Linked DNA regions of Homo sapiens: region 2 is reported to be linked to region 1. Evidence: microRNA targets listed by miRTarBase, many of them from high-throughput screens and not tested one by one. Region 1 holds a microRNA gene; the other region holds the end of a gene's coding sequence.

What was found. The annotated mature microRNA hsa-miR-548at-3p reads CAAAACCGCAGUAACUUUUGU and lies in region 1 at 1,774-1,794, opposite strand. An mRNA with a match to its seed (bases 2 to 7 or 8) in the 3' UTR can be bound and repressed. Matches are read on the target gene's strand: a 7mer-m8 pairs with bases 2 to 8, a 7mer-A1 pairs with bases 2 to 7 and ends in A, and an 8mer does both.
Region 2: the mRNA of PURB is a reported target of hsa-miR-548at-3p. The part of its 3' UTR that is shown has no 7-base or 8-base seed match.

The regions. Positions count from the first base shown.
Region 1 is chr17:42,492,604-42,496,603 of GRCh38, reverse strand. It overlaps MIR548AT (microRNA 548at), which reads right to left and starts at 1,831; the gene lies at 1,774-1,831. ATP6V0A1 (ATPase H+ transporting V0 subunit a1) reads right to left here. Exons shown (of 22, transcript NM_001130021.3): 12 at 2,131-2,270; 13 at 1,416-1,570; 14 at 888-978.
Region 2 is chr7:44,881,133-44,885,132 of GRCh38, forward strand. PURB (purine rich element binding protein B) reads right to left here. Exons shown (of 1, transcript NM_033224.5): 1 at 1-4,000. The coding sequence ends at 3,278. MIR4657 (microRNA 4657) reads right to left here and starts at 668; the gene lies at 616-668. RefSeq lists an enhancer at 3,470-4,000 and a silencer at 3,888-3,937.

The DNA of each region.
Region 1 (4,000 bases):
GTCCCAAAGTGCTGGGATTACAGGCATGAGCCACCTCGCCCAGCCTGTATTATTTTTTTTTTTCCTCAGCAGTCAGATGCCCTGTATTACATTCTTGCCGCCACTCCATTTTTACAGCACACAATAAAGAAGACTTGATCATACTTAATTTGCCTAAGCATTTGAAAAAAAAATTAATTCTCGGATAAGTTTTTGTAAGTTCGTAAATATAAGAATGCAAGTCTAAAATCCACAGGAAAAATATATTTCTGCTTTGCTAAAATGTCTGCTAAAAATAAAAAACCAAACTAAGTAAGCAGAAATAAATTAAGAAATGGGAAGGAGTCTTGAAAAATCAATCTTCCCAGAGTCGATATTATTAACCACCTCAGAAATAAGCAGCGCAGGGAAAAGTATGTGGCTCCTCAAGGCACTTGGGTCTCTTATGGCTTAGAAGTCCTCTGAATACATACATCAAGGTTTCCCAAAAATATGTCAACGAAAACCCACATAACTATTTTTGTTTGTTTCTTTCTTTCTTTCTTTTTTTTTTTTTTTTTTTTGAGACGGAGTCTTGCTCTGTCACACAGGCTGGAGTGCAGCTTGCTCACTGCAACCTCTGCCTCCCAGGTTCAAGCGATTCTCCTGCCTCAGTCTCCCGGGTAGCTGGGACTACAGGCATGCGCCACCACGCCCGGCTAATATTTTATTTTTAGTAGAGATAGGGTTTCACCATGCTGACCTCAGGTGATCCCACCTCCTCGGCCTCCCAAAGTGCTGGGATTACAGGCATGAGCGACCATGCCCAGTGAAAGCCCACATAACTATTTATCTTCATTTTAATTCTCTTGCTTCAGGGTTAGTGTTAAAAAATTTGAGGTTAGCATATAGGAAGGAAGTCCTCTTACTGGATCAATGCCAAAAGGGTATGGTCCACCAAACACTCCAGGGAGGGCTGGGTTCAGCTGTAGAACAGGGTTCCCCCGAAGCGTCTCTTCACTACCATGACAGGGAAAAAGTCACATTATTTTTGAACAAGAGAGGGAAACAACAAGGGTCCAGAAACTGACCCCAAAATAAATTACTGTAGCTATCTTGTCTCTTCAATAAAATGGGAGGGGAAAAATAAAGAGGAGAGACTAGCAGCTGAGACTGAGGGATCCAAAATGACAAAAAGAAAAATTAAACACACAAACACACAATCAAGTAGGGAACTGGGGAATCTGGTTTTAGTTTCCAAAAAAAAAAAAAATCATTTCTAATCTTAGTTCCTGGATACTTGCTGAACAAATCACAAAGCAACTCACAGTGTGGAGCATGAATGAGGAGACACTGTCACCACTTCCTAAAGAAGTGTCAGTTTACCACTTGTCTTAAAAATCAGGGCTGCACATGAAAGGAATAAGCTTTGAATTTTAGCTTCTTCTGCAACTTACGTCCAATTATAAGTAAACATCGGCCGTACACTCCAGGATGACCCAAAGATATTAAGAGACTTGGAAAAGCAATCATTGTAGATGAGGCCAGTGTACATGGAGAACACACCCATCAATAAAATAATGTATCGACCACTGAACACAGTGCTAAACATCTGGGAACCAGAAGAAAGAAGTAATGAGAATGTACTCACTGCAGCTCACATTGTGACAATGTTATTCAGAATATACCTGCCCCTTTCTCCAGCACTACTTTACCCCATCCTGATTCAGAGAGCTTGAAGTAAAAACCAAAATACAATGCTAATGAGACAGTCACTTTCACAGGATGTGGCCTCTATTTTTTTATTAGGTTGGCACAAAAGTTACTGCGGTTTTGGCCATTTCTTTTGGCAGCCAAAACCGCAATAACTTTTGCACCAAACCTAAATAATTTTTATTTTTTTAGAGATGGGGTCTCACTATGTTGCCTATGCTGGTCTCGAATTCCTGGGCTCAAGTGATTCTCCTGCCTCAGCCTCCAAGTAGCTGGGACTACAGGCACACACTACCACTTCCAGCTTGCACATGTCGTCTTTGGTGTTAAAATGAACATAACTTCTCTACTTCCTTTTGATAAATTCATGGATAAAAGACTTCCAGATCATAATTTTCATAATGAATGCTTGGGAAATTATAAAATTTCAGTTCAATGCAGATGTAACTTAAACATTACCTCATTCTCATTCTTCTGGGAAAGGATCCGGCTCTCCCTCAGTACCATCCACACAGCAAAAAGGGTCATTAAAATGCCATGACCGAAGTCTCCAAACATCACAGCAAATAGAAAAGGGAACGTGATAATAGTATACGGAGCTATGAAGAAACCAAAAAAAGAAAAATACAAAGTACATTAAACCATAGCAATTCCACAAATATTACATTCTTTTCCATACCCACCCCCCTTTTTTTTTTTGAGATGGAGTCTTGCTCTGTCAGCCAGCAATGTCTCAATCTTGGCTCACTGCAACCTCCATCTCCCAGGTTCAAGTGATTCTCCTGCCTCAGCCTCTTGAGTAGCTGGGATTACAGGTGCCCACCACCATGCCTAGCTAAGTTTTGTATTTTTAGTAGAGACAGGGTTTCACCATGTTGCCCAGGCTGGTCTCCGACTCTGACCTCAAGTGATCCACCTGCCTCGGCCTCCCAAAGTGCTGGCATTACAGGCGTGAGCCACCGTGCCCAGGCTTCCATAATCTTAAGATCAATATAAGGTGACTTACTCCCCAGCTGCCAGACAGATAGGACTCTCAGAGAAAATCTTTCATGGCAGAATCAACACATCTTCACAAAGTAGCTAATGAAATTTGAGCTACTGATAACTTTTTTTAAAAGAGAGATGGGGTCTTTCTCTGCCACCCAGGCTGGAGTGCAGTGGTTTCATCACAGCTCACTGCAGCCTGCAACCCCTGGACTCAAGTTATCCTCCCACCTCAGCCTCCCAAACAGTTGGAACTACAAGTATGTGCCACCATGCCCAGTTAATTTTGTTTTAAAATTACTGATAAATAATATTTTTTTAGATGGAATCTCACTATTTTGCCCAAGCTAGTCCTGAACTTGTGGCCTTGAGCAATCCTCCCACCTCAGCCTCCTGAATATCCGAGATTACAGGCATGAGGCACTGTGCCTGGCAGCTCTGATAACATTTCAAACAAAGAACAGTGGAAATGAAGGTGTAACCTTGACAACATTGGTTTGTTCTCTGACTCTCTTGTAACTCGTGGGACCCTGCTCCCAGGGCAGGCCAGCTGTCTTCTCTTTGTGCAGCAACCATGTCCCAGTGATATAAAGCTAAATATCAGATAACGTACAGATGGAGAGAGCCCAGAGCAAAGCAGTTCTTCCATAGGGCTCCAACTGAAAATGAATACTCACACTCTTGATTTAATAATTAACTCTCCAAATATAGGAGAAATCTGTGTTGTACCTAAAGTGGCCAATACTTGCTACATTTTTTCTGTCTAACCTTGGAACAGGGAAGCCAAAAAAAAAGCCATTTAAAAATATCAGACATCTTAGAAGAAACATTTTGCTTAAAACAGTTCCTGCAAATGATTTGCTAGAGAAGTCCAGGTGTTTTAGGGCTGTGAGGGCACATGAAAGAATCCAGTCTCATGAACTTTTTTTTTGAGACAGAGTCTTGCTCTGTCACTCAGGCTGGAGTGCAGTGGCACAATTTAGGCTCACTATAACTTCTGTCTCTTGGGTTCAAGCAATTCTCCTGTCTAGGCCTCCTGAGTAGCTGGGATTACAGGCATGCACCACCAGGCCTGGCTAATTTTCTTGTATTTTTAGTAGAGATAGGGTTTCACCATGTTGGCCAGGCTGGTCTCGAACTCCTGACCTTAAGTGATCCTTCCACCTTGTCCCCACAAAGTGCTGGGATTACAGGCATGAACCACCACGCCCAGCCGATGAACTTTTTTTTTTTTTTTTTTTTGAGACAGAGTTTCACTCTTTTTGCCCAGGCTGGAGTGCAATAATGCAATATCGGCTCACGGCAACCTCCGTCTCCCCGGTTCAAGTGATTCTCCTGCCTCAGC
Region 2 (4,000 bases), not on the chromosome of region 1:
TGGGAAACAAACCTTCTAACAATTATATGAAAAGAAGTTTTAGTTTCCTACTTCTCAGGAATATGACTATTTTGATTAGCTGGGATGTTTGCCAAGCTTAAAAAAAAAGGCTCAAAATCATTCATAGCAACAACTGAAAAACAAAAAAATTGGTTGTTTCCCATGTCTGTACAATGCCATTATCTGACTGGAATTAACAAAGACCATTTCCTTTAATAAGCTATTAATAATATTTACGAATGAATCTGTGTTTTGCAGGTTTCTATTGTCCCTAGTGACTGGAGTGAAGATCAGTGAAATGCTACAATTAATCCACAGCCTTCTGCAATCTTCCTGCAGTGGGAAGAGAGGCCATGAACCATCCCTTGCAGGAGAAACAAACCTTAGAGATTGGTTAAGACTTAAAAACCCACCACTATGACATTACCACTTAATCTTACATAGGCAGGTCAAAATTTTAATATAAATTACTTTTGCCAACACATAGCTTATGCATTCTTTGCTCCTTTTTTTGGAGGATTTTCAAATTGATATCTAAAGATTTACATATGATATATTACTGTTACATGGTCTAATGACTAAGAAAATTTCTCTGGTAACCAAAGCTGATGCCATATATGGTAGTGTTCTTGGCATATACTCTATATGCCTCAGACCACTTCCACATTCTTTCTATTCAGCTAATTATAGCTTAGTAGCCACTGGTGAAGGATTGTGAAGACCCTGTCATTTCTACAGAATAGAAAGGCAAGGCTAGTTACTGCAATTCAGCCAAACAAAAAGAAAAAAGAATAAACCAACCCCTTAAAAAGGAGAGGTACTGCACCTTTGCAAAATTGAACTGGCTCACTGCAGCTGAGCAACAGAACCACCACTGAAGCAAGAAAACAAGTTGGTCTATACAAGAATTGTACATGGTTTGAAAATGAAAAAGTTACAGCAATCAACTAATAGCTGCAACTTAAATTTTCATTGCTGCCTCAGAGTTGAAACTTAAATAGTTTCTGCAAACCTAATGCTAGCTTCTCAGCTCCTTTACTAAAACTATTTAGGAATTTGTTCTCCGCAGCAAAGAAATAGACACTCAAAACACGTAGGTAAATACAGCAGGACATTATTGAAAAACAGCTGCCTTGTAGTACAAAATACAGTACAAGTATACGGATGTCATTAAAACATCAAAAATACTATTGCTCCCATACAATTTAGGAAACATTCTTTGCAACGGAGAAAAATTTAAAAGAAAAGCTTTAAAAAAATCTGTTTAAAAATTCTACTGTGGATGATGAGAGTAGAGAAATAGTCTGAAAAGGGCACCAATGTTTGTGGCTCTTCCACTTTTTAATCTAAGATCAACAATATTCTGCATCATAATCTATTTTTTTAAAAAAGCCTAATTTTATGTACACAATTATTTCCCGCCCTCTCAGCCACAAATACATGAAAACCTTTTTGTATATTACTCATTTCCCAATAAATACAAAAAGATTGTATAGATTGAATAATACCAAAATAAGATAATAAAAAGGATATGCAATAAATTAAAAAGGCAGCTCAAATAAGGGGCAGGCATGCAGTTTAAAAAAAATACTAAGATTGTGGAGGCGGGGTTACTTGCCTCCTGGTTGAGAAGGTGTCACACAAAGAATACCTGAAAACTTTGGAAAGAACGTTAGCTCCCATTCAATTCAAAGTTACCTAGGTCTATGACATTTCTAGGAATACCTTTTGATGGGGTGGGATTAACTTGATTAGTAAAAATCATTTCTACTGAAAATCCATTTAAAATATAGAAGAGGCGATCCTTGAAAACCCCAACTTTTATTCTTGAAAGACAGCTGGATTAACTGGCAAAAGCCAGTTTGTTGAAATTTCAAGATGGTATAAAAATGCTTCCAGGATATAGTCAGCATATTCACGTTCACTTCAGTTCCATTCACAGATGGATTTCAGCTTCCACCGGGTGCACTGCTTGAATCACTCATCCATCATTTGCCAACTCTGATTGTGAGGTACTGATACAATGGATCAAGTTCTTAAAAATTTTAAAAGAATAAATGATGCTGGAATTCTGGACCTGAGGATCTTTAGTATTTGAACAAATCCACAGATTAAACTGAAGGTAAATTAAGACTTCAGTTTTGGTTATTTCCAACTTTTCTGTGAGGATGTATATCCATTAAAGCTCAGGCTTATAGCCACACTGTTACTTTTGTAGGTAATCTTCAAGTTTTATGGTTTAAAATCCAGCCAACCAGTGGCTGTAACAGCCGAATTAGCCATAATTCACTGGCTCACACAGTGGAGATCTGGCTCTCATTCATACCAAAGCATTTCTTGGTAATGACCTCCATATTTAGAGATCAGGGGAACAACTTTAGTGAGCAGCAACCAATCCACTCAAACAGTCTGCCTTGTGCTTTATGCCTGACTTTTTCTTGTGCCTACCTCAGCAACCCCCAATGTAAAACTGCTTTTATCTTTGAAAATTTTTTGTCAACTTTGAAACTATTTTAGTAACGGATTCTACTCCAAGCATTGCTATCTGAATCCACTGGCATCCTGGAAAACAATTCTGCGAAGAAAAGACATTTGCCTTGGTCCAGGTTCCATGCAAAACCATTTTTTTAAAAAAATGGATCCAATTTGGTTCTGTATTCTTAGATGGCTTCTTGAAATCTTATCTTTAACCTGTTCATGATTATCCCAAGTTGCATTTCTTTTCGTGAACCTGAACCCTCAGAACTGGGTAATTGTAAAGGCCTCTCTTCTCAAGGATTCCATGAAGACCTAGATCCAAAATGCTGATTTCAATGGAGGTGAAGGGATAGACACCGCAACAGTGAGGCCTAGAGAGATCTTTTATGCCAGATTACCCAGGTGCAACCTAAATGCAACTGTTATCAATGGTCTGGGTAACTTGGACATGTTTCTTGCCCTGGATGTGCAAGGATCTATTCCCTCCAGGGATTATCCTGATGGGTTTACGAACCTCAGTTGAGAAACAACAGAAGCTGAGACAATTTTACGCAGGTGAGGAGATGCTGTTTTCCTCTTTGCAGGTTGCTGTCAGTTCCTTGGAACTTGACTGCTTTTCTCAAGTTGTCCGTCACTGTTCTCTTACGATTATTTCTCTTAACTGTGTTACGTTTTGTTTTTTCCCTCTGCGGCCTCCCTTGCTCCCTCTCCACTAGCTCACTGGGGATGAGCAGGAAAGGGAATTCTCTAGCCAAGGGGATGGTGGTTGGGTGGAGGCCTGTAGGGGAAGCTGCCCGTTTCAATCCTCATCCACCTCCTCACCCTCTGACTCTTCGCCGCCGCCGCTGCCCCCACCACGTCGCTCATAAAGCTTATCCCTCTGTCGTTCCTGGATTTCTTTCATCTCATCCGCATACCGGCAAAAGGCGCCTCCGAACTTGCCCCAGGCTTTGAAGGGTACGGTGATGGCATTGCGGTAGGACGGCTTCACCTCGCTCACTCGCAGAAACACCCCGTATTTGTTGCAGCCCACATCGAAGAAGAAGCGCTTGGAGTCCACGGTGATGGAGGTGCCCTCCGGGAGCTCTCCATACAGGCCGCCCCCTGGGCCCCCGGCGCCGCCTCCCGGGCCGCCTGCCAGCTCGTCGTCCTCGCCTCCGTAGTCGTCTATGAGCTTCGCCAGCGCGTCGCGGAACTCGATGAGGCCCTGCGCAGGCAGCGCGATGGTCTGGCCGCTCTGCAAGCCGCCCGGCCCGGGGCCCGCGCCGAAGCCGCCACCGCCGCGGTTGACCGTTTGGCGGATGCGCAGGAAGCGGCCGCGCTGGTTCTCCTTGAGGTCCAGGTAGTACTTGCGGTTCTCACGCACCAAGAATTCGCTCTTGAGCGCGCGCCGCGGCCCGCCGCCCTCCTCGGCGCCAGCCGCCAGCTGCTCGGGGCTGCTAGGGCCCAGCTGCGCGTAGTGTTCTATGAAGTCGCCCAGCGAGTCGCGGAACTCGGCGGCCACCGCCATGGACAGCGTGAG